2 separate regions of the Homo sapiens genome follow, and region 1 is linked to region 2. The links come from fine-mapping of genetic effects on plasma protein levels. A gene starts in region 2. The other region holds a variant in brackets. All regions are shown on one strand. Distances are from middle to middle.

What was found. A credible set is the group of variants that fine-mapping cannot tell apart. PIP is the chance, under the fine-mapping model, that this variant and not a neighbour inherited with it causes the effect. The UK Biobank Pharma Proteomics Project read protein levels with antibody pairs (Olink). The fine-mapping took linkage between variants from a reference panel, not from the people measured, so its PIPs are less certain.
Region 1: its variant is the best candidate, but not a certain one, in a credible set for the plasma level of the WFIKKN2 protein (UK Biobank, PIP 0.84).

What each region holds. Positions count from the first base shown.
Region 1 is chr17:50,797,662-50,803,004 of GRCh38, reverse strand. No RefSeq gene overlaps it. Among named protein-coding and RNA genes, the nearest start is that of MIR8059, 32 kb to the right of the region's middle. RefSeq lists enhancers at 2,769-3,318, 3,319-3,869, 3,870-4,420. The variant T/C (reference allele first, on the strand shown) is at 3,223.
Region 2 is chr17:50,832,240-50,837,600 of GRCh38, reverse strand. WFIKKN2 (WAP, follistatin/kazal, immunoglobulin, kunitz and netrin domain containing 2) reads right to left here and starts at 2,015. Exons shown (of 2, transcript NM_175575.6): 1 at 1,454-2,015. The coding sequence starts at 1,663. RefSeq lists enhancers at 4,303-4,823, 4,824-5,344.

The DNA of each region.
Region 1 (5,343 bases), 35 kb after region 2:
AACACTGTCACCTTTTTTCTTCCCCTCCTGCCTCACAGCCAGCCTCCTAGAGAAGGAGAAAGGCCTGGTAGCAGCATGAGCTGCCAGGAGCTGAGAAACCCATTTCTGTCTGTCCTCCTTGTTCCTGAGCCACTTCACCTAGGGGAGTGCTATTTGTGCTCTGGTGGGGACATAAAATTGCAACAGGAAGCCAGCACAGGTGACCTCTGCCCCTGTCTATTTGGAGAAAGTTGGTCCTAGCTGAGGTCAACACCCCAGGCACAATTACACCCACAGTAAAGCGGGGGGATGAACCACTTTACAGGGTCTGGCTCCCCAAGATGGTACATCAGCACATCAGAACATAATCATCCAAAGAAAATGACTTGGCTTGTGCCTCGTGAGAGTTCAAATTCCACATCAGCTCCAGGCTAGGGGGAGTCAAAACTGCTGAACAGATACAGAATAGCCGGAGATGAAAGCTAAGAGATCTCAGGACCTAACGGCTTTGTGGCTGTCTGTATTAGACAGGATCAGTTAATGCTGCAAGAAACAAGCCTGAGAATGATAATGGCACAAGCGTAGTGAGGTGGAATTCTCATTCACATAAACAGTCACAGGTGGGCCCAGTCCCTGGAGCTGGGGGAGGAGCTCTCTGCCACAGAGGTCTTCAATTACCCGGGATCTGTCACCTTCAACACATGGCTCCCAAGATCACTTGGGATGTTGACATCCAGCAATGAAAGGGGAAAGGGCATGAAGAACTGGTGAAGTGGGGAAGGCTTTTATAGTTACAGGCAGGCCTAGAAAAGCAGTCACATTTCATCAGACTGTTCCCTCCACTGAGATGGAACTCAATCTCACGGCCACATCTAACTGCAAGAGAAGCTGGGCATACAGTCTTGCTGTGTGCCCAGATGAAAAGAGAGCACCCAGCAATGCTTGTCACACCATCCAGCTGTGGCTGCTATAGATGTGAGGGTCAACTGTGTGCAGCATCTCTGCTCCCAAATCACGGAGCCATTGTGGCAGCCTCAGAGGATGACTGCTAGGGAACACTGGGCTGTCCTAGACCATCAACTCCACTAGCTGTACCCTCCTTCTCTCCAGAGATGGCCACCACTCAAAGCTTCACTCCTCAGAGGGCTACTACAGTCTACTGTGAATTACCCTCCAGGATTCTGGAGGCTCCTTCCATCATGGAGGACCCTGTCTAGCACTTGTGACCCTTGACCCTGACCTCAGACCGAGAGCCCATCTAGGGTCCCAGGGCTAAGGATTTCATTCCAGGTGAACCCCCTGGTACCTGCATCCCACTGCCTCCACGGTTCTACCACCACCCTGAGAGCAGAGAACCCCTCAAGAAGACAGCATCGGCCATTTGTTACCTTGACTCATGCCAACCCTAGCCACTGCCGCTCTCTCCATGAATGATCCAGCCACCTGAAGTCCAGTTCCTGGCCCAGGTTGGATAAGCATGGCCACCTGTCCACCACTTACCACCCAACAGCCAAGGACCAAAGAGAACTTCTCAGCCATATCTCCCAGGAGTTAGGACAACAGCAGGATGAAGCTGAAACAGCCTCGGGTTCAGGTCGTCCTGGCTTCACATCTCTTCTCTGCTACTGACTAGCAGAGCTTCTTGCTTAAGTCACTTACCTCTCTCTGAACCTCAGCACCCAGGCTATAATGCCCCTGTGCAGGACTCGATGAAATAGTGTGCACAAAGCCCTGGCTCAGTGCCTGGCGTGCAGTAGGCCATCAGCCGAGTGCTGTTATAATGGGGGCTCTTTGCTGCTACAATGCAGCACCTTAGACCCTGGGGGTAATGATTCACTCAGGCTTCCATCCAGGGTGAATGGTCCCAAAGCAGCTGCAAGCTGAAGCTCCTGCTCAGCCAGCAATGCCCAAGGGAACTTGATCAGGAGCAGCTCTTCCCCCTCCTCCTCCTCCTCCTCTTCCTCCTTCTCCTCTTCCTCCTCTTCCTCCTCCTCCTCTAAGAAGGCTGCTCCCCAGCCTTCATAACTGCTGTGCACAAGGAACAAGTTTCCAGCTGCCTGTCAGCCTGTGGCAAGCCCGCTGGCTTCGACCTCCTTCACGCTGCACTCACGGAGGCCACCTCCCAATCACCAAAGCCAATGATACATTCAGTTCTTGCATCACTTGACTTCTTGGCTGCATCTGATGCTACTGACAATCCCATCTTCCCTAACCATCCTCCGCCTGCCTTCTGAAGGCCACTTTCTATCTCTTCCAGCCACTTATACACTCTCTCTGACCAGCTCCTCTTCCCGGCCTTCCCTCCCCATGCTGACATTCCGAAAGGTGCGTCCTGGGCCACTTGTCTGCTCTGCGGGGTCATTCTCCCAGGTGGTCACACCACTGCCATGTGTTGGACCAATGACTTCCAAACAATTCCTGGCACCCCAGCAGCTTGCCCACTGCAGCCAGGATGATCCAATTCACAAATTGGATCAAGTCTTTACACGGCTTAAAACCCATCAGTGCCGTCCCGTGGCTCAGAAGATTAAACCCAAGCTCCCTGGTACAGACGCCGTGTCGTCTGACTCCTGCCTGTGTCCTTGGCCTCAGCGCTTGCCCTTCCTGGCATCGGGGCTCATCCCATTCCTGAGGGATGACTGGCACCCTCGGAGAGCCCCAGGGTCTCCAGGTCTCGGTTCCTTTGACTTGCATGCACTCTACCTGGAACATGTCCCCACTGGAGAATGCTCCCTGCCTCTCCAAACCAGATCCAGGGCCCTTCCCCAAGCCCCCTCCTCTGAGTGTGGCTGACCTCAGCATCTCTCCTGTTGTTTTGCTTTGGTCTCCCGGTCCGCATGCCCCTGCTATGTAATAAGTACTGGGTGAATGTTGGTGGAGCAAAGGAGGGAATTAATGACCAAGCCAGCCTGACTCTGAGGTGGGCTTGAGCTGACTCAGTGCTGTCTTAGGTCCTCCTGCTGGAAACCTGGCCCAGAGCTGAGCGGGCTTTGCACCCCTCCCTGACCCCAGCCTCACAGCCGCCTCCACCAGGGCCCAGTGGCTGGCCAGGGACTGTTGGTCAGGAAGCCCAGGCTGGAAACCTGGCTCCCTCCCTCCCTGCTAACACCTTGGAGCAGATCTGTGGGGAGAATTCTCCACTTGAAAGAAAAGCACCAGGTCTCCCCTCCTTCCCTGCCTTCCTGAGAGCCCCTGTCACCGCTGCATTCTTGCTGAGGCTGGAGGAGATTAACCGGAGGCTGG[T/C]GGCAGCAGCCGGTGCCCTAAGCTGCGTGCTGCGTGTTCCCAGCATGGCACCACTCACAAGCCGCCCTGGAAGGAAGGTTCTGGTGGTAGGAGCTGGATTTGGTCACCCAGGCATGGGCTGTGAAAGCCCCCACAGCTCCTGGCTCTGCCAGGTCGGCGGTTGCTGCAGGCCGGTGTGAGGGTGGGGATGCCACAGTCCAAGGGTGTTCAGGGTCAGAGCTTCTTAGGGAAAGGTAAATTACCCCACAGGGTGTTATGGGTAGGACCATGTTCCTATCACAAGATATGCTCAAGACCTAACCCCTAGTATCTCAGAATGTGACGTATTTGAAAATAGGATTGTTGCAGATGAAATTAGCAAAGGTGAGGTCATACTGGAGTGTAGGGTGGGTTCTTAATCCAATAGGACTAGTGTCCTTATGAAAGAAGAGAAGAGACAGAGAGACAGACATATGCTCCTGCTCTGTGTGAAAGAAAGAAGACGCGGAGACTTCGGGGAGGCAGCCGCAAGTCTGGGCCTGCCAGGAGGACTGGCAACCACCGGAAGCCAGAAAAGAGGCAAGAAGTCTTCCCCCTCCAGGCTTGGAGGGAGCAGGCCCGTCCACACCTGAATTCCAGACTCCTGGCCTCCAGAACCGTGAAGCAATACCCTTCTGTTGTTTGCAGCTGCCTAGTGTGTGGTACTTAGTTAAGGCAGCTCTAGAAGCAAATACACAGGGCCTCAGACGGGGAGGCCTCAGATTAGAGGGAAATGCCTCTGACTCCCTATGGTGATTGAGACACTGTCATATTCGTTCCTGTCCCCAGCCTTGCTTGTGAGGCCAAGAAAAGCAAAGGCTGAGTAATGACAATGCTAGGCAGAGGGAAGTCTAGCTAACGTCAGGCCTCCTGCTCTCTCCTGATCCAGGGGTAGAAGGAAACAGACCGTGGGCTGCTGGATGAGGCGTCTCCCCACTCCTGGGTCCACCACTCCGCTCCGGCCACTCAGGGCTGCCTGACAGCTCGGGCTTCCGCCTGAGCTCACCCCTGTCTCTGCCACGTCCTGAGCAAGGCCCTGCCTCTCTCCCAGCCTTGGGTTCTCCCTAGCCCTGAGGCTCCCATGGCCATGCCACCTGCTGAGCCCAGACATCCCCTCCTCCCTGAACCCTCCCCTGACCCCTTCCCTAGACGCCTTCTGTGTTGGGGATGCCTTGGGACGGCTGAAGAGGCCCCGTGCTGAACCGCTAAGGGAACAGGACAGTCAGACACACCTGCCTTCAAATTCAGGCGTCACACTTGTAGCTGTGTGACTCCAAGCAAGTTCTACATGGCATCTATTTCCTCCTTTGTAAGGTAGTGATCCCAGCAGGGTTGTGGGAGGCAGCTAGTCAAGGTTGTAAGAGACTCTGCAAGGCCGAGGCTCTTTCCCTGGGTCCCACGGGCCAGCCTCAGGAGGTCCATGAGAGCCCCGAGGCTGGAGTGAAATAGCGCGTACGGCTGCCTACATTGCTCTCAAGCCTTAGCTCTTGCCTTGTTCTCAGAGGGGTTCATGACTTCAAGAAGTTAAGACCCCCACGTAAATCTCCCAGCCCAGAGCCCCTGAACACCGCTCCACTTTGGACTGAGCATCTCTCCTGGGTCCTGCCACCTTGCATCTTGCCCTGAGCTGCATCTGCCGTGTGGTGTGGTGGCCTGTCCCCACAAGGAAAGGGGCCCTCACAAGGCCAGCCTCAGACCCTGTGCCTGACCCAGGGCTCCTTTGCAAAACAAGTTCTTTTTTTTTTTTTTAATACTTTAAGTTCTAGGGTACATGTGCACAACGTGCAGGTTTGTTACATATGTATACATGTGCCATGCTGGTGTGCTGCACCCATTAACTCGTCATTTACATTAGGTATATCTCCTAATGCTATCCCTCCCCCCTCCCCCCACCCCACAACAGGCTCCGGTGTGTGATGTTCCCCTTCCTGTGTCCAAGTGTTCTCATTGTTCAATTCCCACCTATGAGTGAGAACATGCGGTGTTTGTTTTTTTGTCCTTGAGATAGCAAAACAAGTTCTTAATACTGCTCCTTCCCGAGGGGCCCTGAGGCCCAGCTTGCCAAGCGCCCACAACGCACCTCCAGCCAAGGTTTCAACAGAT
Region 2 (5,361 bases):
GCCCCAGCCTGGATCTGGAGCCTTGGGAGACTCCGTGCTGCCCTCAGAGCTGGCCAGACTGGGCAGGAAATAGCTCTGCCTGGAGCAGGTGTAGGTCCCACAGCCTGTTGCCCCAGAGGGGGTGGGCAGGAATGGCCCTCGGGAATGACTCGGGAGCTAGAAGAGAACTGGCCCTGCCCTGCAGCAGTGCCCTCTGATACAGAGCAGAAGGCAGGACCAAGGACGCTGGGAGGCTGAAACGTGGTCTCCTTCCTCCCAGGGACACCAGAGATCCATTCAGAGCTGCTCCTGCTTGGCCTGCCGTCAGCCTGGTCTTCTCTCAGGCTCAGGGTCCAAACTCCTGAGGAGGTGGCCTGGAGTCCAATGCAATCAAAGCTTTCTTGTTAGACATGAGTTCCAAGCTCATCGTTCCCTCACTGGCCATGACAACTGTGCCCTCCGTGCCTGGCTCTGTGTCCACTCTCTCACCTGTGAATGGGCTGCTGATGCCCACCATGCTGACATGTCATGCCAACATACACGACGTGCCCGGCACGGTGCTGGCCACAGTAGCCCTCAGCACGCATGAAGGAGGAATCCTCGGGCTCCAGTCCCTGATGAACTGGGACATCGCTCCCACCTCTCCTTCCAGGCTTCGGTGTTAATAGACAGGATGGTGCCCTGTTTCTCTCCAGGTGAACGGGGCCTGTGTTCCTTCACCTTCCTAGGACCTGCAGGGCACTCCTGCATGGTCCCCACCCTGTGGCTCCCACCCCCATCACTCACAGGCTCATATGGTCCATCTCTGGCTTCTGGACCCCACTCACCTGGTCCGCCTCACACTCCAGCTTCTGGATCCCACTCACCTGGTCCATCTCACACTGTGGCTTCTGGACCCCACTCACCTGGTCCACCTCATACTCCCACTTCTAGATCCCACTCACCTGGTCCGCCTCACACTCCAGCTTCTGGATCCCACTCACCTGGTCCATCTCACACTGTGGCTTCTGGACCCCACTCACCTGGTCCACCTCATACTCCCACTTCTAGATCCCACTCACCTGGTCCGCCTCACACTCCAGCTTCTGGATCCCACTCACCTGGTCCATCTCACACTGTGGCTTCTGGACCCCACTCACCTGGTCCGCCTCACACACCGGCTTCTGGACCCCACTCACCTGGTCAACCTCACACTCCCACTTCTAGATACCACTCACCTGGTCCATCTCACATTGCGGCTTCTGGACCCCATTCACCTGGTCTGCCTCACACTGTGGCTTCTGGATCCCACTCACCTGGTCCATCTCACACTCCTGCTTCCGGACACCACTCACCTGGTCCGCCTCACACTGTGGCTTCTGGACCCCACTCACGTTGTCCTCCTCACACTCCCACACAGTCCCTCCCCGACGGCTCCCACCCCCGTCACTCACAGGCTCACGTGGTCCATCTCTGGTCTCTGGACCCCACTCACCTGGTCCGTCTCACACTCCCGCCTGCAGGTGCTCTGTGCGTCCACCCAGAGGTTGGGATTCATGTCGTTGGGGCAGATGCCGGCGTGGGAATAGCGGATGGGCGGCAGCGCCAGGCTTCGCGGGGGCACCCCGAGCAGTAGCAGCAGCAGCAGCAGCGCTGCCACCTGCTCCCAGCGAGACCAGAACCGGCGACACCTTGGGGCCCACATGGTGCAGGCTGGGGCGGCTAGAGACCTCCCCTGAAACGATGCCAGGGTCTGGGGCCCACCAGGGCCTTCTTCTCAGGGGCTGCAGACACCTGCCCTCCCCACCCCAGCAGGTTTCCTGCTCAGGCTGCTGCTCAGGCTGCTCTGCCGCTGCTGCCTCCACCAAGTCAGCACAGCCTGCCGGGCTGTGCGGCTTCAGATAAAAGAAAGGTCTTTAGAAGGAAGCTCCCTCTCCTGAGTGTGCAGGGAGAGGAGCCACAGCAGGGGCCCGCGCCCGGATTTATATCCTGGGCGCGCCACCCGAGTGGGAGCCAGCTAACCTGATGCCTGTCACAGGCAGGCTGCTGGCGCCTCTGTCCCGTGGCTGATCACAGACTTATTGCAGAAGGGGGGAAAAAAAAAAAAAGAAGCTGGAAGCAGTTTAGGCAGCGTATCTGGCACGGTGGGACACCTGCTTGTTTTTGACTCCAGGAGGCCTTTAACCCCTTCAAGGGCCAGAAATGGCATGTGCTTTGCGGGGAGCTGGCTCCAGGACACGCAAGCTCACTCTGAAGGAGGGCTTGTTTCCCTTTCCCCCACCTCCTTGGGGCCGGGCCCCCTCCTCCCCTTTGGCCACCTCTAAAGAACACACAATCGCTTGTTACGAGGAGGGACCTGCAGCCACCGGGTTAGCATCGCCCGGCTTGATAGTACATTTGAGAGCAAATGACGTGGAAAAACAACAAGTTCACGGCCATTCCAGGGCGGGCCTGCGCCGCGCTGTGCCCTGTAAGCCGACTCCCACCCCGGCCCCGGCCCTTTGTGGGGGGTGTGCGCACGGACAGCTCTGTATCTCTGTGTCCAGGGCAGTTTGCGTCTTAAGTTCCAACTTCAGTTAATTTTCCCCAAATCATTCCAGAGACACATACCAGATATGCTCTGGCCCCGCCGGCGGCTGGGACGGATCACATTCCTCCCTCTTCCATCGACACACCGAGAAAACCTCCGCGGTCACAGTGTCTCAGGATTGTGCCGGAGTCCAGCTGCCCTCGCTGACGACCACAGTGGCTGCTCTTCAGTGAGCTCCTTCTGACTGCCAGCCTTGTCTGGCCTCCCCCACTTCCCAAAGGAGAAGGTCTGTGGTCGAAGAGGGCGAGCGACTTGTCCAAGGTCGCACAGAGTGAGCAGTCCTGGTGGTACCAGCTGCCAGATGCACTGGGCTCTTCACACGTGTGGCTTCTCTGAACGCATCATCTCATTTAATCCTCACAACAAACTGCACCTCCATTTCAGATCGGAGGAAAGGACGCACAGAGAGGCTAAGCAACCTGCCCATGTCGCACAGCTACCCCACCACGGTACAGGAAACAGGGACACCAGCTTGCTGGGTGTGGGCAGGGGCCTTTTAAAATCACCCCTCCCCCATCCATCTGCCAGAACTGCTGTCAAGGCACAGCCCAAACTCTGGTTTTCACAGACTGGACAAGAAATTTTTGAAACATCAGGGGCTATATTTGTGGAGGGGCCGGGAAGAGAGCCAGAAGCTGCCAGGGGCTGGGGGCGATTCCTCCCCCATTTGGCAGCAAATGGCTTCTATCTAAAATGCCACAGAGCAGCCTGCAGTCTGAGTGTTTTCGAGTTGGTCACTCGATCCTGGGGGTAGGGGGCGGAGGCACATAGAGCCCCGAAAGAGAGGTACCTTTCCAAGGCCAAACCACAAGGGCCTTGAGGAGCTGCTGTGTCCCGGGGACAGTAGGTGGAGTGGCCCCCACACGCATCAGATACGGAAGGGATCCTGAAGGTAATCTCGCTTTACAGCTAAGGAAACTGAGGCCTGAGCCCAGGCCGCTCCTTCCCCACGTCCACTTTCCCCTTCAAGAACACAGCTCGCCATCTCACAGGACTGTAAAACGGCCACGGGACCCTCGCTTCCACACCCAGACCCTTCCCCTTCCCAGCCGGGCGGGTGCTGCCTTCTCCCCGCCTGAGCTGGTCCCTTCCCGTTGTGCGGCCATTCTGCAGGATCTGTCTTTTCTGCTTATGTCAAATCGCTAATGAAGGGTGTCAGATCCTAATCCTCTAAATTATTGGAATAAACTTCCCTTCGAGGCCAGTCCCCGTAATGAAGCCAGACAGCGGGCGACGCCGGCTGCTTTGAATTCCCCGTAATTTCATCAGCCCGTGTTCCAGCTGCTCCGCGCGGGGGCCTTCACACAGCCCTTGGACAAACGCGGTTTGCGCAGCCTCCTTTGATAGCACAAAGGGACATGGACAGTGACACATTTATAAGCAGGACTTAGAAAAACTGTCACAGCCCCATTAGGCCAGGACAAGTATCCAAGGAGAGGAGGCCGATTTCTGGGCAGTCCCAAGAGACCATTAGAGGGTGTGGGAGAGATGAGAGGGGGTCGGAGGAGGGGAGGCACCGAGCAGAGGTTGGGGGGTGCTGAGGAGGGCAGGAGAGGGGCACACGGCAGGGCAGGGGAAGCTTGGCCATCCTACCCCCACTCCTGGGGCTGATGGAGAAAGCCCCCACACCCAACCTGGTCCTGTCTCAAGCCACGGACTTCTCCTTCCCGGGCCCCATTCCTGGACGTTCTACTCTGAGAACTCTCAAAGCAGCATCGGGAAAGAGAGGAGCCCAAAGCACTCTGACTCTCCCTCCAGCCCTTCCAAGTCTCCCACCAAAACACAGCTCAGAATAATAAATAACATCTGATCGGCCTGGAGCCCACACAGTGTTTTCACCTGCACGTTGCTGCTGACCCCACGGCAGCCCCAGGAGGGAGCTCCCTAGCGCGGGAGAGGAAACCGAGTCACAGAGAGGTTAGGCTGGGCCCTCCTCCTGCCCACCCCGGGCCTATGGCCTCCACACACCCCGTGCAAGCTTCCAGCCCCTCCAGAAAGCGACCCCCAGCCCATGCTGGCTGCCCCGCCCACTGGCTTGTTTATAAGCTGTTTGGGAGCGCTTTGAAGTCTTCTCCTCCCTCCCAGAGGCCCTTGGAACTGGCTCTGGATCTGCCTCCTTCTCTCTCTCCTCTTGGTGTGTCTGTGTGTCTGACTCTGTGTCCCTCACACTCTTCCCTGTGGGTGGTGTGGGCCCTACCCTCACCAAACCCACGGTACTGAAGGTGGGCCCAGCGGGAGCGGCTCAGTGGCACATGCCCACTGTCCACCGGGCCTCCTCCACTCAGGCCACTGGGAGCAGAGGCTGGGCTGGGTCTCCTGAGCAGAGGCCTGGCCTCGGGCGTGATCTGCCTTTTCCCCTTTCCCCAAGGACACCAGGCACAGCTCTCCTGCTACTCAGAATGAGAGGTCAGAGAGGGCTGGGCTTGGCCCCATCTTGGAAGGGCCCCTCCATCCCCCACCATTGTCACAGGGTGGAGAACCATGGATTCTTCACACTGCCAGGGTGGGTTCAAATCTGCTCTAGGAGCCGTGGGAGGAGGTCACCAGGTCACTCTCAGTGACCCTTGACCTCAGGTTCACCCTGACATTAACAACTCCTGAGCCGCTAGGGTCTTGACGGGACAGCACAGCTGATACCATTTCCCAAGTCAGCCAGCCCCCAGCAGCCGCGATGGGGAGGTACAGAGGTGCCACAAGAGTATCTTGGGTGCCACGTGGCTTATGCACACCCCACACCCACACTCCTACCTCACACTGCACCTGCTCCCTCTATTTCTCTCCACAAAGGTTTTTTAGAGCACCTACGGTGTGCC